Linked DNA regions of Homo sapiens. The protein of the gene in region 1 interacts with the protein of each later gene in a biochemical or structural test. Each region holds a gene or a part of one and is shown on either strand. Other genes may lie near its edges.

Region 1 (10,180 bases):
CTAAGTTGATTATTAAATCATTCCTATTGGAATAGAATAAAGTACTTAATCATATTTGGACAAGGCAGTAGTTAATAAGAACCACACACTGAAGTACTTTCTAATATAATGTCCCCTTACATACACTACAATTAGTAAATTGTTTGGTATATTGGCTTTAAATGGACTGGCTTCAGTAAAATTTTGGTTGATACTTAATATTTTTTAATTATTTTCACCAGACTTTGGAACTGTTTTCATAGCTGGAGAAACTGATCCACAGGGGTTAAATACCAAAGCACACATCAAGTTAGCCATAAAACCTAGAATTGCAGTAATTACACAAACTCACACACTCACAGACACATTTTTAAACTCCATCCTTAATGAAATGCTGATCGATGAAAAAAAATCACTTTATTTTTCTTGGCACATTATTTTCCAAGATAGGTTATTTTAGTGTCAAAGTTTAAATTAACAGATGGACTGGATAAGTTCATTTGGAAATGATGCTATAGTATGCTGCATAAAAATGAAAATTTTCTTTCCCAAAATTTACCAGAAGGTAAAAGACAGAGAAAGAAAAGAAAAATAAATGAACATGACTTTGGAGATAGAGGCATCGATAGGTCAAAGAGTTATGGAAGCAGCCTTCCAGGACTTTTTGGAAGTCTTGGCCTTAATTTCTCATCTTCCAAGAGGACAGAGATTCTCCAAAATATCCTCTCTTAGGACTTCTCACTGCCTGTCATCTGGTTTTTCCTTTATTTCTCACATTCCCTAGGTTCCCAAAGGAGAGATCAGAAATTGAGAAAACAGAGGCACTAGAGAAGGAACATTCCAGTCCCTCTTCACATCCCACAGGTCTGAGTCCTAGGCACCTACAGCCCACCACTTAGGCCAGCTTGACTGCCTAGGACCCTGGCTCCGACCTGTGCAGTGTTCTACAGATGGACAGCATAGCACCTTTGGCCTGCACTGCAACATCAGTCCCCAATGATCAAGCCAGCAGAGAAGTGGCCATGCCTTAGGTTGTGGCTGACTTTGCAGACAGAGAAGGAAAATGAAAGAGTGCCTTAAGTTCTACTTCTCAAAAAAAAAAAAAACTTTTGGGTACTAGGCTTAATAGCTGGGTGATGGAATAATCTGTACAACAAACCCCCATGACACGAGTTTACCTGTATAACAAACCTGCACATGTAACCCTAAGCCTAAAATAAAAGCTTAAAAAAAATAGGTCTACTGCTCCCAGTTAAACGACTGCATCATTCACTACAGAACCGGAGACAATTTAAAATAATTATAACAGAGGCCGGGCACAGTGGCTCACACCTGTAATCCCAGCACTTTGGGAGGTTGAGGTGGGTGGATCACTTCAGATCAGGAGTTCAAGACCACCCTGGCCAACATGGTGAAACCCCGTCTCTAATAAAAATACAAAAACTAGCATGGTGGCGGGAGCCCGTAATCCTAGCTACTCAGGAGGCTGAGGCAGGAGAATCACCTGAACCTGGGAGGCAGAGGTTGCAGTGAGCTGAGATCACACCTTCGCACTCCAGTCTGGGCCACAAAGCAAGACTCCATCTCAATTAAAATAAATAAATAAATAATTATAATGGAAGTGCAGTCATTCTGGAAAGACACAGACTTAAGACAGCTGTGTGACTTTGGATAGGTTACATGATCTCTCTGAGCCTCATTTCCCTCAATGTAAACCGAGAAGGGTGATACCTATTCTGGAGTTCTTTTAATGAGGATGTAAGCAGAGCTCCAGACTCATGATGAATACATGGTACACATTTAATAAGTGACAGCTAAATACATTATACCTTTGCCTGATTTTAGGAGAGAGGTCATAAGCTGGATGTGAAAATGAACCAAATCACTAACAAAATTGCAGCACCCTGTTGGAGACGGTAATTTTTTCTTAATTTTTCTGCCTACAATTTCCTAGGTCTTCTAATTAACATTGTGATACTTTAGCTTGTAGCCTAGCAGTCTTGTTCTTGTCCTCAATATTAAGTATGCTCAGTCATATTTTTAGATAACTTAACATTGCATATTTATTTTTAGACAGCCCAGCCACACATAAATGACCAATACAAATCAACATAAAAGCAGTTCATATCCAAAGTGCCCAGTTTTAACCCTCTGTAGCTGGCAGTTCCATTTTTAACGCGAAGTTTCCTAAAATGTATAATCTATAAAACTAATTTTATAGAAAATTGACACTGAAGATATTAAGAAAAATCAAAGCATTTTGTGGTCAATTAAATTGGGGAGATGGTAGGGTAAGCAAAGTTAAGAAGGGTTTTTTTGGTTTTTGGTTCGGTTTTGCTGTTTTGTTTTATCACATGAATTTTCAAAACCTTCAACATTCGAACATACATGACATAGCTCTAAAAAGGTAATAGGAGTCCTACATTTCCAAATTTTATCTGTGCTCAGAAATGACATTAGGTGACATTACCTGAATTCTTCTATTGTCTTTTTGTAGAGACATTTGCCATAGGCACAATAATAGGGGTGATGGGGCAGGAGGAAGGGAAAAACAGAGTGAAAGAAGGAGTTCCAGAGTAACTACTCTTTAAGGCAGGGATCACAGATCCTAATGCCTACAGGAGAAAGTGAAATCAAGATCAGAGGTGGGCCAGACACAACCCAAGAGAAGATGGTAGGTCAATGGCAAACAGCAGATCATATGGTCTTTCTACCTCAATTCACACTTTTAAAAACATTCTGTGCACCTGTATATGTCTGTGGGCCCTATTCACCATACATTGCAAGCATGAAGCCCCTATTCTTAGGAGACTGCTTTCATTTTTATTTCAAAAACAGCACCAACTTCAAGAGTGCCTTCAAAGACCCAAATTTTAATGTGTTAAAGGGAGGGAAAAAAAGATAGAGCATATTAGAGCAGGAGGTGGCTGTTCCTCTGTCTCTTTGTCACAGCTATCACTAGACCCATCTCAAAGTTAAGAGATGGGATCCTGTTTGTAGTTCAACATTATGTTATCCACAGGTGGATGGATAAGACCTGCTTATGCCTTTGGATCATTTATATTTTACCAGACACTGTTCCATGTGCTCTACTTGTAGCTCCTCATTTTATCCTCACAATAACCCTATCATGATCCCCATTTCACAGATGAGACACGAGAGAGTTTAATCCACTGGCCTGTAGCTACACAGCTAGCAAGAGACATAGCTGGGATTGAAATCCAGGTTGTTTGGTTCTAAAACTCTTAACTATTATGCTCAACTCAGTCTTGGAGATGTTGTTCCCAATTTGAGGGGTCTATCAGTTTTAATTGCTTTCAGCTGCAGGTGACAGAAGTCCCAGCTACCAGTGTCTAGAACAAGTTTTGTTTTTGTTTTTTTTCCACAAAACAAGAAATCTGGAAGCAGGTGTCTACTGGCAGTAGGGCTGTACCTCAGCAATGTCAGCACCAACTTCTGCATGCTGGTCACAAGATGGTTAGTTCTTCACTGGGCATCATATATGAAATCAAGAAGCAAGAAAGGAAAAGGGGTGGCACCAGCCTTAAACCCTTTCCCACAAGGCCCCATCAGACTTCAACTTATACCTCATTACCAGAATGACATCACATGGCCATGTCTAGCTGCAAAGGAGTCTGGGAAAGCAAATATTTCTCTTTTCAAGCCCCAAGAGTGGAGGCAGGAACAGGAAAATCTCGTTGGGAACAGATGCTGGCTTAGCCAGCCAACAGTGTGGACCACAAGAGATTTGGTTTGGTTAAGAAAATACCAACAGAACTTCATCATACAGTGTATCACCCATGACATGAACCCAAGGAAAGTTAAATAGCAACAATTAAAAGTTTGCTGCAAAACCAAAATTGAATTATAGAACTCCTATTACCTTTTAAAATATCTGTTTCCATTCATTTCCAAAAATCTGAAATTATCTGTAAACATTTTCCCAATCAAATCTGTCTAGGTAGTGTGTAAAAATTACTTGACCTTCACACACCCAGATACTTTTAGTTATGCTATTGTTAGTTATGTTATTTCATAAAATGTTATCTCCTTATTTACAGTTGATAAATGAAATGATGATTTTCAATACAGTTTCAAAACTGGATTGAAATTTTGTTAGTTATTAGAAACTAGAAAGTTTCAGTGCTGAAAATACACAACGGGTTGTTTGTATTTATCATCTATTTTATTTTCCAGTTTGCATTGGCTTTTCTGGGTCTTTCTACAACTTTAATTGTAAATTTTTTCTTTTATATTTTTATCATGGCACTCAAACTCAGAAAACCTGTTAAGGCAACTACATAATGTGATCTAAAAATCCAGTTAACATATTGCTATGGAAACCAGGAAATAGAAACAGCACTCTAATCATTCCTTTAGACAACTATGGCTCTGTGTGTGTGTGTGTGTGTGTGTGTGTGTGTGTGTAAAACTTTTTAAATTCATTAATTTATTCATCTTTTATTGAAAGCTGTTACTGAACCCAAAATCTGTAATTGATCTGTCCATAAATAGGCCCAGTGCCTTATTACCAGTAAATTAGTGTTTTTTAATGAGCTATAGTCATTGATAAATTATGCCATGCCGTATCAGGAAATCTCCAGTCAGGCCGCGTTGTTTATTTAGCCTGCTGAGGCCTCTTGGTATGGTGTGAAGGACACCTGACTGGGCTGAAAGCTAAGTTCTAACTTTGCCCCTCTTACTAACCAGCTATGTGACTCTCCTGGGAACTTTTAGGGACTCAGTTTCTTTACCTGCAAAATGGTTCAATGCAAGACTTTAGTAACGTAATGGGAACTTTCCTTTTCCATAAAACTGGGGAATCAAGAGGTAATCTCTTTTGAGGACTGAAATCACTCTTATGTAACCTCTGGTTACATTATCATTTCCAAGTGCCTGGCACTTGGGAAATGATAACTATTCTTACTACATTTTTCTATGTTTCATTCTGTAGTAAATAAGAACTGAACCTGCATAGTAACTGTTATTTTAACCCATGACTTTCAATAACGAAGATATCTATGTCTCATTATCTATTGCCATGATTGAACAAGTTGGTATGAGAGCCGGAACGAACTCAAGTTCTAACCGGCAATGCCCGTTCCTTAGATCCTATTACCTTTGAGTGTTCATTTACTCTTGTAGGTGCCAATTTTTATAGCGAAATACAAAGTTATCCCAACACAATTACTCCTAATAGAGTTCACCGAGGCCCCAAAAGCTCTTTTTTAAAAATCATCATAAGATTTCAACATTCAAGAATTAAACTTTTGTTCTGTTGTGCTTATTCATCGCTATTTGCCCAGTTATTTAATCAGCCTGCTTCCGGCTATGGAAAAAAAAAAAAAGAAAAAAAGAAATGGAAGTCTCCTCAGGGTTAAACTCCTCTGTTGTTCTTCCTTGCAGAAATTTGAGTTATTATAGTAGAGGATAATCGTTGCATAATGAAATCATTGGGACAATTCGTCCATCCACTTCTACCTCCGCCTCTAACAATGAACTCCTTGTTTCTGCGGTGCCCAAATCTCTCTAAACCCGGGTGGGCGCGGGGCGGTTAGCGGAGACGTGGGAGAGGCCGAGAGCAAAGCTCGCGCCCTTCCCGGGGTCAGCGAGCGGGGTGCCAGGAGGGTGCGCGCCCTGCATCTGAGCCCGGGGTGACACTCGCCTCCCAAGCGCCAGGAGGGGGAGACTCGGTCCCGCTTATCTCCGGCTGTGCTAACTTCAGACTGCCTGAGCTGGGGGAGGAGAGCGCGCAGCCAGGGCGAGAAAACTTCTCCACCTAGAAAGTTTCACCTTGTCGTGGGCGGGGCAGAGGCGGGAGGAAACGCGACCCCCGCGGGGCCAGGCGCGGCGCGGACGGCAGGAAGGGCGGGGGCCGATTTCCCTCTGGGTGGTGCCAGTCCCCACCTCAGCGGTCCTCGGAACCCGCGGACTAGGGGACGGACAGCACGCGAGGCAGACAGACACGTGCTGGGGCGGGCAGGCGAGCGCCTCAGTCTGGTCGCCTGGCGGTGCCTCCGGCCCCAACGCGCCCGGGCCGCCGCGGGCCGCGCGCGCCGATGCCCGGCTGAGTCACTGGCAGGGCAGCGCGCGTGTGGGAAGGGGCGGAGGGAGTGCGGCCGGCGGGCGGGCGGGGCGCTGGGCTCAGCCCGGCCGCAGGTGACCCGGAGGCCCTCGCCGCCCGCGGCGCCCCGAGCGCTTTGTGAGCAGATGCGGAGCCGAGTGGAGGGCGCGAGCCAGATGCGGGGCGACAGCTGACTTGCTGAGAGGAGGCGGGGAGGCGCGGAGCGCGCGTGTGGTCCTTGCGCCGCTGACTTCTCCACTGGTTCCTGGGCACCGAAAGGTAAAATTGCAGCCCCTTTCAGATCCAGTACCCAATCCCTCGCCTCAGGGGTTCTGCTTTCTTTGTTCCCCTAAGAGACCTGACTGCTGTTCCAGGGGGCAAAACCACGTAGGTGGGCTAGAGTTTAGGGGCTTCGGAAACTGAAGAGACGTGGCCACGGCGAGGACGAAACTAGAATGGGGCTTGTCTTTTTAGGGGGTTGCTTCTGATGGCCACCTGTATGACTTAGGAGGGAGAGGGGCGCTGGGACAGTGGGTGATGTGTGACTGTTACGGCCCAGCAAGTTTTAAAGCTGGGATCTGACTCAGCCCTTACAAAAGGGATCCGGTCATCCTCGTCCCACCGTGATGCAGCTGGCAAGGTTTGAGCCGAGCTGTTTCCTTGTTCCCAGCCTTGCTTTATCTGTGTTATGTTGGGGTCCTTCCAAGGGGCAGGTGTTTCTGTGAAAGTCTGAATTCATTTCTGGCAATCACGCGGGGCTTGTGATCCATCAATTTTCCATCGTACCTTATCTCTTTCTGGGGCTTGTGGTGGACATCTATCTTATTAGGTGAAATAGATTATAACCAGAGGCTGAGCGATGTGGCCAGTCGTAGTGCTGACCCGATAATTAAAGCACCAGTGAAAGTACTTTCCCTGACTATTGTCAATGCAGAATTTACTCCGAAGTACGGTTTCCCATTCATATCTTTCATGTTTTAAAAGAGCCATTTGCTAATTTGGCAGTTGGAGAGGGCTCCAATGGCTCACGCATGAATAGTTGCCCAGTGTATTTTACCTTATCACAGTTTTATGTTCAAAGGAGCCCTCGGGCAGAATGAAATATTGTCAACTCTCTTAGGCAAAATAATCAAGATACTTTAATTGCTATGTTAAGATGGTCCATGAATGTGAGAGGATTGTAAGAACTGACGTTGGAGGCAATATAGACTATCTGGACCCTCTCTTGAATTTTAAGAAGACTGTTCACATTCTGTAGCTTTGGGTGGGGGTTTATTCTGTCGCTTTCATCAGCCAGACACATGCACATTGCCATGCAAATGGATTCAGAAAAACATTATATTCCCTTACAGCTAAACTATTATAGCTGACTAATGAATTTTTTCTGCATGAAGATGATCTGAAAATGATGTACATCATGTTTCTCTGTGCTACAGGGACATAAATTGCATTTTTATGTAAACAGTGTAAGTGGTGCTTGGATTATTTACAGGTACATAGCTTTCCTTCCTTGATCTAAGCTAATTGAGCTTTGTTTTGAACGTGTAAACTTCCATAATGGAACATAAGTGAGGTACTTTGGTTCCTATCATTTGCAAGTCTGTGGTGTATTCAATGTTCATTCTTTTTGAACTGCTGAATAACAGAGGGAAAATTTACATCATTCATAAGAAATTTTGGTAGTACAAAAATGTGTCTGATAGCCTATAAAATGTACTGCTGTTTTAAAAATTCTATTCCGTTTTCAAACTTAATGGTGTATAAGCTATAGTTATTAACTTAAATATATTTTGCTTTTAACATGATGGAATTTGTGGCATATAGAAGACAGTCTGCCGACTACTGCTTTTTCAAAATTGCTTTGTTCTTGATACATGGCAGTAGGGGTTTACATTAGATGTATACTACATGCTTTCAAAATTAGTTGATGGAGTTTATCTTCATGATAAAAAATGTACCAGATTAATCATAGCCAGTCAATACGAAAGCTCATAACTAATATTTTCACTACTTTTAAACCTATAATAGAGAAAAATGACCCTTTGCTAAGCAGGAGAAATACCCATATTTTATAAATTCCTTTTAAGACTATGTAAGTATATGCCTTGCATTAATCTTGAAATCTTTAAAAAAAAATTGTCTTAATGAGGGCTAGACTAAGAAATACATTTCAAAAATCAATTTCCTTAGCTGTTTTTAAAATAGTGTTTGAAGTAGCATTAGTCATATTATCCTTCTGCAGATCTACATAATAGTCTCAAATTAACTTTTTCTCAAATGTGGTCATCTCAAAACAACGTGAATAACTCAGAGGAGCTAACATCCTCTAACTGGCTTATTTTCTCCAAGTGGCTGCACCAAAGACATGGCAACACCCCCATGGTGAGCACAGTTCCTCACACATTCAGATTACCTCCCATTTCTCTGTCCTCTTCCTCCTCAACCCTTTCCCTTGGTTTGGTCAGAGCTGCTTTCAAGGCCTTCCGTGCCCCCATTTCTCCAGCCCAGTTTGCTCGTTTCTTCTTTAGGCATTAGGCTTAGTGATTCTCGCCAGAGCCATCTACGCTTTCTTTTCCGTGGTCTAAATCCCTAAGATTTCCTTGGTCTGCTGTGTTTATTCATAGGATACTCAATTTCCTCATTGTGCCCTCTTAAGGGGAGAAAATGTATGTAGAAACTCAAGTGTCCGGAAGTGAGCCTTCTTTTCCTGGCTGGTGTATGCTGAAACTAGTGTTTTTGACACCAAGCCCTTAGGGCAGAGTTTCTTCATGGGTTTTGCTCAGTGCAAAATAAATAGTCACTTCTCAGTAATAAATGATAGATACACTGACTAATGTTAGTTCAGAATCACTTTGATGATGTGTTCTCAACTGACACTGAGTTGCTGCTAGATCCACATTTGCCTGACCAAAAATAGCTAGGACCTATAGGTAGAGTATCATATGTGCTAGGTACTACAGCATTTTCTTTAAAAGAAAGAAATGGAATCTGCCCTTGAGAAGTTTATGATCTAGATACACAGACAAATATCACATATTAAATGAACACAAATTCATAATTATTAAGAGGACATCACATGAGAAACGCTTTCAAAATCATCCTATTTGCTATGAAATAATAGAATTTTTTTTTAAAAATCAAAGTTTGGAACTTAAAAACCTTAACATTTTCAAGCTGTTTCTGCATACATCACCTTTCTGATACCAAAACGACCTTACAAGATAGGCAAGTCTGATAACATCTTAACATTCTTATGTTATAGACAAGGAAACTGAGCTTGAGACTAGCTCCATGCTATTTCAATAGCACCATACCACCTTTCCTCAGCCATCAACTATTGGAAACATTTTCCATGGAGGCATCATTAGGGATGCTTAAGATAGTGGTAAATGATGAATATAACATATCTAGTCCCTGGAGTTTTTGTCACCTTCTCTTTCTCCAGTTCTCTCTCTCTTTTTTTTTTTTAATTTCTTTTCTTTTCTTTTTTTCTTTTCTTTGTAGTGAGACATACCGAGAAAAGGTTTCATTCATATGTGTGGGGCATTCTGCTCCTGTTATCAGATTAAGAGCCGTGAATAATTTTGTAATCTATCCTTCTATCAGAAAGCCCATTCTCAGATATCTTTTCAGCTGTGTTAAACAGGTTAGTATATTCCGCTTGGGATTTGTTTCAATAAAAACATCCAGTAAAATCTGACTACTTTGCTTTTCATGGGACAAAATGAAAAAAGTGCTTTTATAAGCTGTAAAACTTAATTGAGAGAAAAAATCACGTGTGGCATTTGTAGCAGGAGGTATGAGCTCAGTGAAATAAAAAAGTTAACTTTGTAATCACATACCCAGGTACACATATTTCTCTCTGTGATTGCATAAATGTGTGCAAGTATGTTTATGTAGGTTACTCCCATTGATTTTAATTTCTATAATAAATTATGTAGCTATAGGGCCCACAGGCGATTATATAATGGGCAATAGAATTTGAAAATGTATCTCTCCTAATATAATTAAGGATAGCAATTATGAAATGTGCTTAGAGAATCACAAGTTATCGTGAAAGCCAGGTTCCTGTACTCCAAGAATGTGAATGAGGATTTAGTCATTCATTCAGGACAATTTTTTGACAACCTACGAGGC
Region 2 (8,419 bases), on another chromosome or scaffold:
AATTGCTTGAACCCAGGAGGTGGAGGTTGTGGTGAGCTAAGATCGCACCACTGCACTCCAGCTTGGGCAACAGAGGGAGACTCCATCTCAAAAAAAAAAAAAAAAAATTGTAAGCCCCTTGACCAGGCGTGGTGGCTCGTGCCTGTAATCCCAACACTTTGGGAGGTTGAGGCAGGTGGATTTCTTGAGCCCAGGAGTGCGAGACCAGCCTAGGCAATGTGGAGAAACCCTGTGTCTACAAGAAAATACAAAAATTAGCTGGGTGTGGTGGCACATGCCTGAAGTCCCAACTACTTGGGAGGTTGAGATGGGAGGATTGTTTGAGCCCAGGAGGCAGAGGTTGCAGTGAATTGAGATTGTGCCACTGCACTCCATCCTGGGTGCCAGAGCGAGGTTCTGTCTCCAAAAATAATAAATAATAATAATAATAATAATAATAATAATAATAATAATAATAATAAATAGATAGATAAAATTGTAAGCCCCAACTCTTGCTATCCCACCTTCCTAACTTAATTTCCTTCTTGGTCTTTATTACCACCCAACCTCCTACATCTTTTACTTATTTATTTTATTTATTGACTTTCTTCCCCACTAGACTATAAACATAATGACCATGGGAGTTTTTTTATTCACTTCTGTATATCCAGCAGTTAGAACAGTGCCTAGCCTATAGTAGGTACTCAATAATAAATGAATTGATAGGTGGATCTCCTCACTTCTGGTTCATTTCCATTCAATCCATTCCCCCATTGCTATCTGATTTATCTTTTTAAAGATACATCTTTTATTACAAAACAATTACTCTCTGGCTAAAAGTTTTGTATTGCTTTAAGATAAAATTCCTGAGGAAGGCTACCAGGCACCCTCTAATTTGGCTCCAATCTGGCTTTCAGTCTCACCTTTCCATCATGCAACACACATTTCAGCCACCCACAACTTCTCCTTTCTCCTGTTCATACCTCTTGGCCTTTGCACAGGACAGACTGTCTGTACAAAGTATTCTACCTTCTCTCCATAAGGAGAATTTCTTCATCCTTCAAGGCAGTACTGAAATGTCACTTTTATGAAGATGTCTCAATTCTACCTGACCTCCATGCTTCCCTGAATGCCAGACATCCCTCTCTTATATGTACTCTTTATCACAATGCATTGCCATTATTTGTCCATGTGTCTGTCTCGTCAGTCAGCTCTTTAAGGACGAGAAGCATGCCTGATTCATCTTTATGTCCCTGTCAACATAACCATCCCCGCCTTCAGACCTATGTACTTAATAAATAAGTTATCAATCAATTAGGCCAATGTGGTTGTCTGAATAATGGCCCCAAAGATGTCCATGTCCTAACCCCCAGAACCTGTGAATATGTTACCTTCTGTGGCAAAAAGGGCTTTGTAGATGTGATTAAGTTAAGGATCTTGAGACGAAGGAATTATCCTGGATTGTCCGGTTGGTGACCAAGGTAATCACAAGAGTCCTTAAAAGATGGAAGAGGGAGGCAGGAGAGCAGAGAAAGAGATGTAAGGTCCCATGCAGAGATTGGAGCAATGTCACTGTTGGGAGGGGGACACGAGCCAAGGAATGTGGGCGGCCTCAGAAGCTGAAAAAGGCAAGGAGTGGATTCTCCCTCTAAAGTGTCTACAAGAAACACAGCCCTGTTGTCTTGATTTCAGTCCCAAAAAACCATTTTCAGATTCTAATCTTCAGGACTAGAAAATAATAAATTTGGGTGGTATTAAGCCACTAAGATTGTGATAGTTTATTATAGCAGCAATAGGAAGCTAATAGCACCAATATTAATGAAAAATCAGAAACAGAGTGTGGTGGGCTGAGTCCTGCGTGGATAGGGCAACTGACATGGAAGTGGCAAATCAGGGTGAATGTTCCCAGCGTATCAAGAGATAGATATCATCTCCCAATGTTGCTTCATCCCTCTCACCCTGGGGTTCTTACACAATAGCAGACATTGGCAATATGTGCTACAAAACATTATGCTGTGCTAATTACCTGTTCGGCCTTCAGTCTGGGCTTCCTTGCTAAAGAGGCCTCCACTGACAGTTAGGATCTGTATCTTGTATTTCTTGCCTGGTGTTAGATCTTCAAATTTGTGTTGCTTAGTGGTGGCTGGCTCTGATGTGTTGCGCAGAAGGATTCCATTTTCAGTTAGAAGCAGGATATCATATCTTTCTGCCACACCAGCAGCTTTTTGCCAACTTACTATTAAGGAATAACTGCTGTATGCATTGTCTGCAATTACTCCTTGGACAGATGCTGGAACTGCAGAGAGACAAGTGGAGCAACAAAATACAGATTTTATCACTTAGGGTAAAGTCATCAATTGAGAAAAACTCCTGAATCAACTGCAGGTAGAAGATGATGCATTTGCTTTATTTGTGTGTCATTGACACTTTCTGTGTGCCCTTATGGAGAAAAGAGGAGAAAGGATTTGTTGGCTTAACCTGTCTGTACAACTACTTTGATTCTCCATTTTTTCTCTGATTTTAAATAGGATCTCAGATAGAAAAGTTAGTGAAAATGGCCCTGATAAATATGCAGAGTGGTGCATACCTATGAATCTAGAAAGTGAAGAATGCTGAGCAAGTTCATGTTCAGTGAATGTGGGTTTGACAGCTGAATTATGTCTCTTGTTTAGACTTTTATTACTAACATTAACTAAGGTCAAAACTTCAAGACTTGACTTCAGCAGTAGTGGATACTAGTATTTGTTCTATAGCTCCTGAGGTGAAAGGCAAAATAGTATTATTGTTATTATAATAATATTTTCTGTACTAGGTTCATTTCTTTTCTCATTCTACATAATCTTCCTAGATTTCGTCTATGTCCATGGTTTGAAGTGTCATCCATAAGGTGACAACTCCCAAATTTAAACTTTCAGTTTAGATGTTTCTCCTGCTTTTGCAAATTACATCTCTCCCTGAATGTACCACAGACATCCAACACTCAAGACGTCCAAATTGGACTCCTCATCTCCCTCCCCCAATATTCTCATTGTTTTTTTGTTTCTATCTCTTGGTTCAAGTCAGAAACTTCAGTTATCACTCTCACCCTTGTATATATAATCAAATACGAGTTTTATTTCTGTATCCTAAATCTTCTATCTCTTGAATCTAGCCACTCCCTCTTTGTGTACTGCTACTACCTCAGGACCACATCATACCCTTTAGCAAGTATAAATGAGACCATACATTATTGCAACTGCCTATTGACCAGTCACTTGTGTCCTTACCTCCTACTCTTTCAATCTGCAGACTCTATCTAGCATATTTTCATAGCACTCCCATGCTAATGGCCCTATAGTGGCTCTCCATAATTCCAAAACACCTTCACAGGCAAACAAAGCTCTTTGTGATTTGGTCTCTCTACTTACCTGGCCACATGCCTCACATTTTTTATTCTAGTATACTTTTGCTTTTTATACTTTTAGTAGAGATGGGGTTTTGCCACGTTGCCCAGGCTGGTCTCGAACTCCTGGACTTAGGCTATCCACTCACCTCAGCTTCCCAAAATGTGGGATTACAGGCATGAGCCACCGTGCCCGGCCTTTATTCTAGTATACTAAAAAAGGTGTAGGTTCCCAAATGTGCCATCCTTTCTCTCACCTCCAGGGCTTTGTTTTCTCTGTTGGAACGAAGACAACTTACACTTCACCTGGATGACTTCTTAGTCTTTCTTTAAATATTACTTCCTCCTGAAAGCCTTCCCTGACTCTTCTTGTTTGCTCCTCTAACATCTCATAACCACTTTTTTCTTAGCACGTACCATGTTTTACTGTAATTGCCTTTTTACTTTTCTATCTCCTTCACTAGATTATAAGGTTCTTGAGGTCAGGGGCTTTGCCTTGCTACTGAATGCCCACTTTCTTTTTTTGGAGACAGAGTCTCACTCTGTCACCAAGCTGGAGTGCAGTGGCATGATCTCAGCTCACTGCAAGCTCCGCCTCCTGGGTTCATGCCATTCTCCTGCCTCAGCCTCCCGAGTAGCTGGGACTACAGGCGTCTGCCATCACACCCAGCTAATTTTTTGTATTTTTAGTAGAGACGGGGTTTCACCATGTTAGCCAGGATGGTCTCAATCTCCTGACCTTGTGATCCACCCACCTTGGCCTCCCAAAGTGCTGGGATTACAGGCGTGAGCTACCGCGCCTGGCCCGAATGCCCACTTCTAACACAGGATTTGTCATAGGGTTAAAGATATGCAGATATAGATATAAATATAGATATGAAATAGAGGCATAGTAGGGCATGGTATAGAAGCCCCAGACCCCACAACTAAATAAGTGGTCATGAGAATGGGAGACATCTAAGAAGTATTGTGTCACAGTGGAGAGGGCACGAGGTTTGGGGCCAGACAGACCTAGACTTGAATTATAGCTTTAGGTCTTGTTATATACGTATCCTTGATACTGTTTTACAAGCTTTCTGAACTGTTCTTTCCTCATCTGTAAGAGAACTATAGTATGGCTAGAGATCTTTCAAAAATAATACATGAATAGTGATATTGATATAAACAGATATATTATTCATACATTTGATACTTGTTTTTTTAGCTCTACCAGGTAAAGTAGATGGCACAGATGTGTACTCTTTCTTAAAAGGTAGAACTTTTGAAAAATGCATAATTATGGAAGTCTCCTTATTAAAATTTATTTATTTATTTATTTACTTATTTATTGGGACAGGGTCTCACTCCGGTTGCCCAGGCTGGAGTGCAGTGGCACGATCACGACTCACTGCAGCCTTGACCTCCCGGGCTCAGGTGATTCTTCCACCTCAGCCTTCCAAGCAGCTGGGACTACAGGTGTGCACCACCACGCCTGGCTAATTTTTTGTATTTTTAGTAGAAATGGGGTTTAGCTATGTTGCCCAGGCTAGTCTCGAACTCCTGAACTCAAGCAATCTACCTGCCTTGGCCTTCCAGGGTGCTGGGATTACAGGCGTGAGCTACTGTGCCCAGCCTGCTTGTTAAAATTTAAAATTTTATTATCCTTTAGCAAGTATAAAAATGTGTTCAAATGATTTGGTTTCTGATTCCCTTTCATTTGTTTTGCAGATCTCTATTAAGAGAAAAATACAAAGAATAAATGAGTAAGGCTCTTGAAACCATTGAATTGTACAAACTTTGGTGGTTTTAAATCTGGATTTGTGAATAGCTGAGCCCGTTCACTGTCCCATTTTGGAGAACCATGAGGCATTCTACAATCTAGCCCTTCTCCAGGTGGATGCTTACCTGTCCGCCCAACCACATTTATCTGATTCTTCAGGGACCCGCTGACTGAGGCAATCATGATCTGGTACTGCTCCCCGGCCTCCAGTCTGTGGAACGTGTGCTCAAAGACGTGCTTGGGAATAGTCTGAGAGTCAACCTTTTGACTGTGCCTGAATGCCGACACCGTGTAGGAATCAACGTCTCCCCCACCAGGAGTCCAGTTCACCGTCAGGCTATCTGTTGCTCCATTGGGAGAAATGTGAATATTTTTGACAGCACTAGGAACTAAAACAGAAAATAAATTTAAAAGTCATCACTTAGAGAATGAACTGTTGAAATTTTCAAACAAAGTTTTGAATGCTTCTGATGTTTTGGCACCCACTGAGAGAACTCACATGAAAAAGAAAGTAACAATTTGCCACTTTTCTCTGATTTTTCTGTGTGAACTAAAGTTGATGGGGGAAAGCTTAGGGGGAAGTCAAAGCCGGTGAGTGGAAATGAGGAATGCTAATTATATAGCGAGGGGCTAGTTAGGGTGTCTTGGTCCAAGTTTTGGTTTTCTCACTCACTAGCTGTGGGACTACAGGCAAATTACTTGACCTCTGTAAGTTTTAGTTTCTTCATTAGGAAAAATGGCAGTGATGATAATACTAACCAGCCCATAGAGTTGTGAAGATTGATTCTTTTTTAATTTAATTTTATTTTATTTTTGAGGTAGGGTCTCTGTCTGTTGTCCAGGCTGGAGTGCAATGGCATGATTATGGCTCACTGCATCCTATACCTCCTGGGCTCAAGTGATTCTCCCACCTCAGCCTCCCCAGTAGCTGGGACTACAGGCACGTAACACCGTGCCCGGCTAATTTTTTTGTATTTTTTGTAGAGACAGGGTTTTGTCATGTTGCCCAGGCTGTGCTTGAACTCCTGGGCTCAAGCTATCCTCCTGCCTTGGCTTCCAAAGCATTGTGAAGACTGAACAAGATGTAGACATAAAATGCTTTGCTGTGGGTCTGGTTCATGGTGAACTGTCAGTACATGTTAACTACTATGGCAACACTCCTAAAAGAGTTCTAAAGAAGTGATACCCAAGTAACACTTAATTCTTAATCTGTGTGCCTCAGAAGCACCAGCTGATCACATCAGTTCATTGCTATTTCTCTGAAAGCACCCTCCAACCCCGCCACTCTCTGCTGACATCATACTTTATTTTCATTCATCCAGGTTGGACAACATCATTGTCACTATCAACATGACTTTGTCCCTTCTTGCTGTCTCCCTTTTATCCCTCCAAATGCTCAATCGAAATACCTGAACTACCCGAAAGTTAAATGCACCACTGCATCTATTCAGGTTCAAGAACAGTATTTCACATTACCTGTGAAGCCCTCAATGAAGGCTGACTGCTGTACATCCCCGCTAATCGTCAAGACAAGAATTTTGTATTGGCGGCCTGGTGTTAGGGAAGTAAATCGATACTCGGTTGCGGTATTTACAAGGTGAAAAGGAGGAAATACTTTCATGTCATTGAAGAGCAGCTGGATCTCATATTGGTCGACATCCCCATTAGCTCCTGACCAAGTCACATGCAAGTCCTCAGTGCTCCTGTTGCGCAATGTTAGATCCTTAACAGGCTCTGGAACTAGGGAGAAAAATGAGAAGACATTTCAGGAAAGGAACTGATCAGAGTTTACCTACATAATAATTTATGAATCACATTCAAGGAACTGGCAACATCTCCCTTCCCCAAATAAACCACTAGCACTACTTCATGCATAATTAAACAAGAAAAATTGGAAGCAACTATTAACATTGTGGTTTTTTCCTGACATAAATGTTACATGATCAGCATTGGTAGAACATAATTATAAAATGAGTTATGATCTCAATCATAAGATAAAACAAGAAGTCTAGAATCTAAATGCCATGATGCAGGAAGATAGGGAAGAAAAATGGGACATTTAGCCTTCTTGCTCCCTCACTATGTTTGCTTTTATCTACCAATAAATATTCTGTAATTATAGGCCATGGCTTGGCTGAATGATGTTAGCACCAAGTGAGACTTACTGGGAATGTAATGTACTAATGAATAAGCAGAAAAAATTCAAGGTTCAGATAAATTACTAGAGACTTTCAAGTCCAACCAACTGTCAGATTTTGCAATCGTTCCACTTACTTGTTCTCCCATTCCCTTGTTCATTGGCTTCATATTGTCCACTTTTTGTAGTAACAGTGACACTGTACAACCGTCCAGGGACTAGCTGAACAAATACACATTCGTTTTCTGACTTGGGAATGCTTTTAGTTTGAATGAAGTTGTTTTTGTTTTTAATGGTGACTTCATAGTGATCAAAGTCTCCAGTGGCATGCACCCAGGATACCCTTAAATAGTCACTCCTGGCTGAGTTGCTAACACTGACTCCCTGGACTTTGTCAGGCACTGAAAAGGAAACAGAGAGTAACTAAATATTTATGAATTCTGAGTGAGTAATTGATCACAGATGACAAGCTGGGACAATAAAAAGAGAGAGTAGATTATTATTGTGTGCATTTAAAAGAAAAATCTTAGACCTTAGGTTACAAATTTCTGGAGGGGAAAGATTGTTACACTATGTGGAGTGATTAAACGGATCTTTTAACAGAAGCTGATGAACTCATTCTAAGCCTGCTGTTTGCCTGCACAAAGTGTCATGTATAAGATGGAACATTAAACATGATGGCTGATGATTAATATGAGTGATGGTAAACGATATAGATAATTCCAACATACCTTGCTGACTCAAAAGTTACTAAGAAGAATATAAGCAATCCCCCAACCCGCCCCCCTCAAAAAAATGAGGCTATGCATGGTGGCTCACACCTGTAATCCTAACACTTTGGGAGGCTGAGGAGGGCAGATCACTTGAGGTCAGAAGTTTGAGAACAGCCTGGCCAACATGGTGAAACCCCGTCTCTACTAAAAAATACAAAAATTAGCTGGGCATGGTGGTGCACACCTGTAGTTCCAGCTACTCGGGAGGCTGAGATGGAAGAATCACTTGAACCCAGGAGGCACAGGTTGCAGTGAACCAAGATCACATCATGCCCCTGCACTCCAGCCTGGGTGATGGAGCAAGACTCCATCTCATAAAAAAAAAAAAAAAAAGAAAAGAAAAGGAAAAAGAAAAATGGAAGAAGAAACACATATGGTTATTTGCATAA
Region 3 (5,410 bases), on another chromosome or scaffold:
CCGGGGTCCTTCCTGCCCCACCCTAGTCCTGCCCTTCCCTCTTCACCCCTCCTAACACGTTCTCCACTGGGTTCTGGATGCAGATGACAGGCATCCTCGGCGGCAGCTCTGCGGGGGCAACCAGGCTGCCACAGAAAGGATCATTCTGTTTGGCCGCGAGTTGCAGGCATTGAGTGAGCAGTTGGGCCGGGAGTACGGCAAGAATTTGGCCCACACAGAGATGCTGCAGGTACAGGATGAGCCGGGCCTCATGCAGAGCAGGCCCCATTTGGTGTTGGGGGCAGGGTGGCTCTGGGAGAGTCCAGGGGGCAGCAGGAAAGAGTGGGCTCCAGCCAGGTCTGCAGAGGGAAGTGGGGCATCTGGGCCCACTGGACATGTGCCCTCCACACCTAGGCTCTGGGGAGAGTACAGCCCTGCCCGACCCTACACCCCACATTCCAGGCTGGGCATCATGCAGGGCCCTGTCTCCCTCTGGAGCCACGGGTAGCAGGGTGAGCTATGGTGTGTGCCACAGTCCTCTCAAGAATGCCCTGTCCTGTAGGATGCCTTCAGCCTGCTGGCATACTCAGACCCCTGGAGCTGCCCAGTTGGCCAGCAGCTTGACCCCATCCAGAGGGAACCTGTGTGTGCTGCCCTCAACAGCGCCATTTTAGGTGAGTGAATCTATTTATTATTATTATTAGAGACAGAGTCTGCTCTGTAGCCCAAGCTGGAGTGCAGTGGCACAATCTTGGCTCACAGCAATCTCCACCTCTGCCTCCTGGGTTTAAGCAATTTTCGTGCCTCAGCCTCCTGAGTAGCTGGGACTAAGGTGCGTGCCACCACGCCTGGCTAGTTGTTGTATTTTTAGTAGAGACGGGTTTTGCCATGTTGGCCAGGTTGGTCTCGAACTCCTGGCCTCAGGTGATCTGCCCGCCTTAGCCTCCCAAAGTGCTGGGATTACAGGTGTGAGCCACCATGCCTGGCCTAGGTGAGTGGATCTAACAAAAACAGAAGCTAGCCCATAGCTACCTGGGTGGTTCCCAACCCCCACCCCAATTGGCCCCAGAAAGAGCTGATGTTTATCCACACTGGGGCAGCAAGCTCTGTACAGGCCCTCTCTGGTGACTCATAGGACTCCTGGGCTCCCATGGTTGAACCTAAACCTTGACCTCTGTCTGCCCAGCTGAGTTCATGATGGGTCCTAGGCCATGGCAGTAGGCCCAGGCCAGCCCAGCGCTCTACATGGGGCTAAGGTCCTCAGGTTCCTGGCATGACTTCAGGGCCATGGCCTGGTGGCTGGGACACACTTACACAGAGGTACTGAACACTCTGTTCCAAGAGAATCTGTCCACTGCCCCCTCCTTCCACCCCCAAGGGAACTTTGACCTGGGCCCAAGCCCTGGGCAGGCCAGTGACCAGGCCTTGTCTTTCCTCCACAGAGTCCCAGAACCTGCCAAAGCAGCCCCCTCTGATGCTCGCCCTGGGCCAGGCATCTGAGTGTCTCCGGCTCATGGCCCGAGCAGGCCTGGGTTCTTGCTCCTTTGCCAGAGTTGATGACTACTTGCACTAGCTGACTGTGCTGGCTGGCTCTGGCTGGCCCTCCACTGGCCCCAGGGCTGGAGCTGCCCTGCCCTCCATAGGCAACTGGTGCAGGGACTGGGAAACCATAGACAGAGTCCACTCCTCCTGCCTGGCCTTTCCCCCTCTCCCTTTCCTTCCTTCCTTCCTTTCTCTGCCCACCACCCCGCTCAGTCTCTCTCTCTCTCCCCTTCACGTGCAGCGGCCTGTAACACAGTATTGGCTGGTTACTCTCATGTAGCGCCTTCTATTTTGAAAGGGGGGTTTTGTTTTGAGGAGGGGTTGGGGTTTTTAAATTTTTTTCTCCTGACTGAGCCACCAGTATTTATCTCTGGAGAGTTTGTGCTGAGCTGGTTTCTGCTAATTTAGTGATGAAGCCTATCCAAGTTGGTGATAGCTTATTATTTTCATAAGTAAAAAACAAATGAGATTATATATATATATATAAAAATATATATATTAAAAAAAAAGACAGTATTTATCGTAGCATTAGTGGTCCAGCACCTCTTGGGTGAGGCTGTCCAGGCACCATGTTTTCTTTGAGTCCAACTCATTAAAAAAGAAGAATCTCTGTCACCTCAGCCAAGTGATTTATTTTTTGCTCCCCCTTTTTTGAGTCACAGGCCGAGCTGCAGCCTAGGAAACCCAAATAGGGTTTGGTGGGCCACTTAGTGGGCATGGTTACATTGGTTTATAGCATCCCAAGAACTGTAGATCCCTAGGCCCCTGAGAGCTGGACAGAGCAGAGAACTACAGGGCCAAGGGTCCAGAGAAGTGATAACTTGGCCCAGGGCCACACAGCAGAGGTAGAGGGTCCTTGGCCAGCACACTATCTACCACTCTACCCCACCTCCCACTGCCTGCCTTGCTCCCCTTTCCTCCCTTTTCAATACCCTATCTTCCCTTGTTGTTAAGATGGCCAAATAATACATTTACTCTAAATTGATTGCCTGGAAACTACCTGCCTTCGTCCTGAGAGCTTCTGTGTGTCAGGCTGCTGGAAAGAAGACTCCATTCCCAGGACAGAGGCCCTTGAGTACAGGGGCTGCTTTCTTCCTGCCTAGATCTTCACCATCTCTGCACAGCTCTGAGAGAATGGATGCTTTCTGTTGAGAAACCAGTACCTTGTGGAGGCAGGTTCTTGGGCTGCTACTCCAGGGAGTGGATGGAATCCTTGGTCCCCTAGGCCAGACTTCACTGCCACTGTGCCAGACAGCTCCCTGCAGCTGGGCCCTAGCCACTCTTAGGAAAGACTATTGGGAGTATTTGCTGGCCAGAGAATGGGACTCTATCAGCTTTACACATGTCCCACCAGCTGTTTCAGATAGATCCTTACAGCTGGCAGAGTAAAAGTGGTCCCGCTACCATTGGGGAATCAGGAAAGGAAAGACTGAGATGGTTGCCAGGACTTGGGGTGGCCCACCTGTGGAGAGGACTGGCTGCCCTGGAGGAGGAAAGGGAGGAAGTCTACACAGAGGAGCACCAGGACGGCTGGAATTTCCATATGTGCTTCACATTGTGAGGGGAGTGCACAAGCCGCCCATGCAAAGAGTAGGGTCAGCCATGGCAAGGCCGGAAGTTGAACTTTCAGTCCCTGCCTGAATCTGGGCTTTGCAAGCTCCTGCTCCATATTGGTGGACATGGGAATGGTTGGTGTGGCCTGAGATACCCATTGCTCACCAGGCCTCACTGGGCCCACAGCTGGGCAACAAGAAAAATGTTTGAATTGGACCAACTGCTGGTGATGGGGCCAGGGCCCTGGGCCCTGTGCTGTCAGAATTCTGCCTTGGGAAATGATCCTATAGCTGCTGCTTTTTCTTGGTCCTTGGGGCTGGCAGACCCATAGACCATGGCCTGTTAGGAGGCGTCCTGTCTGTAAAGGAAATTCATCTCTTGTGACAGCCTGGGGCTACCTAGCTCCCAAACCCAGAAGTTGGAGACATCAGGCTGTTTAAATGATCATAGCCTAGCAGGATTGGATTAAAACCACAGGCTTTTGCAGCTGGAATGGGGTTCAGTGAACATCTCCCCCATTCCTCTCTTGCTACAAATAAGGAAACAGGCCCAGGAGATTAAGTGACTTGGCTAAAGTCACATAGCAAATTAGTAGCAGAGCCGGGACTATCCCTTATCCCTGTGGGTTGGGCAACACTATTTAGTCCTGAAACCGAATGGCAGATAAACCCCATGAGGGGTCAGGCTGATGTGCCCTCCAGCAGTATCTGAGAAGCTGCTACCTTCAGGGGTGTGTCAGGGATGAGGACGGGTGCCTGAGCTTAGGTTGTGGAGTGGCTGAGAGGGCCCAGGAGGGCTCGGGACAGCTGTGTGCTGCATGGGGTTGGGTGTCTGCCTGGCTCGCACTTGGTACCCATGGCCACCTCCCCATTTTCTGTGCCTTATCTCACTGTTTCAGCTGAGTCCAAGTTGTTTACTCTGTTCCTCTCCAGAGGGGCTCTCTGTCCCAGTTGGGCAGCTCACCTTTGGGACATAAGCCTTTGCCCCACAAGCTGTGGAGAGGGCCAAAACCAAGCTGCTTGAGCCCACTCTCTTGCTGAGAGTCCAGGCCTGCCTGCCTGCCAGCCAGAGGTGCCCCTTATGCACATCCAGTCCTACCAGCCTGCTTCCAGGAGCCTAGAGTGGGAAAGGCACCTGGGGGAGCCCTGGTGAAGGGCTGGACCTGACCCATGGAGGCAGGAGGAAGACCTGGCTTTCTTGGTTTGTCCGGCCCTGGGGAGCAGCCTTCCCTACTCACTTTCCCCTTGCGGCACCAAATGGTCACTCCTTCCAGAGCAAAAACTGGCACTCATAGCAAGCCAGAACCCCCATCCCCATCCTCATGGGTCTGTGGCTGGGTGCAGGCCATCAAAATGGACACCACGAGACAGAAGTGGGGACTGCCTGGCCACCTAGCGCCTTCCCACTCCTTAAGCAAGCACAAAGAAGATGAGGCAGAGAATTGTCAGAGCTGAAAGTTCCTTTGGTTGCTCACAACTCAGGTATGCACCCATGTGGCAGCCAGGCAGCGGAGCCCTACTAGACTGCCAGTCTCATGCACCCAGACCTGTGGCCAGATTGTGGCCTCTGGCTGCCTCAGGCATTTTCCTCTTTGCATTGGGTTTTCCTGCATTAGTAACTACAGCTGCAACAGACATCCTCCACATTGTGCACACTGGTTTTGCCTTTGTCCTCAAGAGTTGATACTTGGCATTAGCATGAAACTTGTGGGTGTGGGAGGATGGAGAGAGAACTCTAACACAAAACATCTTATTAAAATTGTACTTGAGAGACAAAAAAAAAACTCTGTTGTATTTTGACAGAATTATTTTTATTAAAATACACATCCATGAGCAGTCATGTGTGTCTGGTCTCTGTTTTGAGTCTTACTGAGGTTGGCACCCCTTCTGTGACACATCCTGTCCTAAAGGATTTGGGCCCTTCCCAGCCTCTCAAGTGCCCAGGCCCTCAGGTGCCTTCTTCAAGGACCTTTGAAACTGTGTATTTGTAAGACCCCAAAGAGGACAGGTACTTAAACCTCAGTTCTCTCTTGAAACGGCTTTCTTCTTATACAAGGAAAAAGTAGCAAATTCAACTAAAGAGCCTGGGCACAGTGGCTCACGCCTATAATCTCAGCACGTTGGGAGGCTGAGGCAGGTGGATCCCTTGAGCTCAGGAGTTCGAGAACAGCCTGGGCAACATGGCAAAACCCCATCTCTACAAAAAATACAAAAATTAGCTGGGCATGGGGGCGCATTCCTGTGGTCCCAGCTATTCAGGAGGCTGAGGTGGGAGGATCACTCGAGCCCAGGAGGTCAAGGCTGCAGTGAGTTGAGATCATACCACTGCACTCCGG

Evidence for each region. The genes of interacting proteins can lie anywhere in the genome.
Region 2: of the proteins of MET (region 1) and PTPRB, one has a biochemical effect on the other in vitro, tested with the Homo sapiens proteins (one study listed by IntAct).
Region 3: the proteins of MET (region 1) and RANBP10 form a complex in vitro, tested with the Homo sapiens proteins (one study listed by BioGRID).

The regions. Positions count from the first base shown.
Region 1 is NC_000007.14:116,666,256-116,676,435, forward strand, and holds the start of MET (hepatocyte growth factor receptor isoform b preproprotein), read left to right. Parts: upstream 1-5,940; 5' UTR 5,941-6,322; intron 6,323-10,180. UniProt on the Homo sapiens protein: Receptor tyrosine kinase that transduces signals from the extracellular matrix into the cytoplasm by binding to hepatocyte growth factor/HGF ligand. Regulates many physiological processes including proliferation, scattering, morphogenesis and survival.
Region 2 is NC_000012.12:70,564,430-70,572,848, forward strand, and holds part of PTPRB (receptor-type tyrosine-protein phosphatase beta), read right to left. Parts: intron 7,659-8,419; coding exon 7,395-7,658; intron 7,022-7,394; exon of another isoform or gene 6,861-7,021; coding exon 6,597-6,860; exon of another isoform or gene 5,510-6,596; coding exon 5,246-5,509; exon of another isoform or gene 5,069-5,245; intron 2,276-5,068; coding exon 2,006-2,275; intron 1,476-2,005; exon of another isoform or gene 1,371-1,475; intron 1-1,370. UniProt on the Homo sapiens protein: Plays an important role in blood vessel remodeling and angiogenesis. Not necessary for the initial formation of blood vessels, but is essential for their maintenance and remodeling. Can induce dephosphorylation of TEK/TIE2, CDH5/VE-cadherin and KDR/VEGFR-2.
Region 3 is NC_000016.10:67,722,570-67,727,979, reverse strand, and holds the end of RANBP10 (ran-binding protein 10), read left to right. Parts: intron 1-83; coding exon 84-229; intron 230-541; coding exon 542-653; intron 654-1,421; coding exon 1,422-1,552; 3' UTR 1,553-4,910; downstream 4,911-5,410. UniProt on the Homo sapiens protein: May act as an adapter protein to couple membrane receptors to intracellular signaling pathways.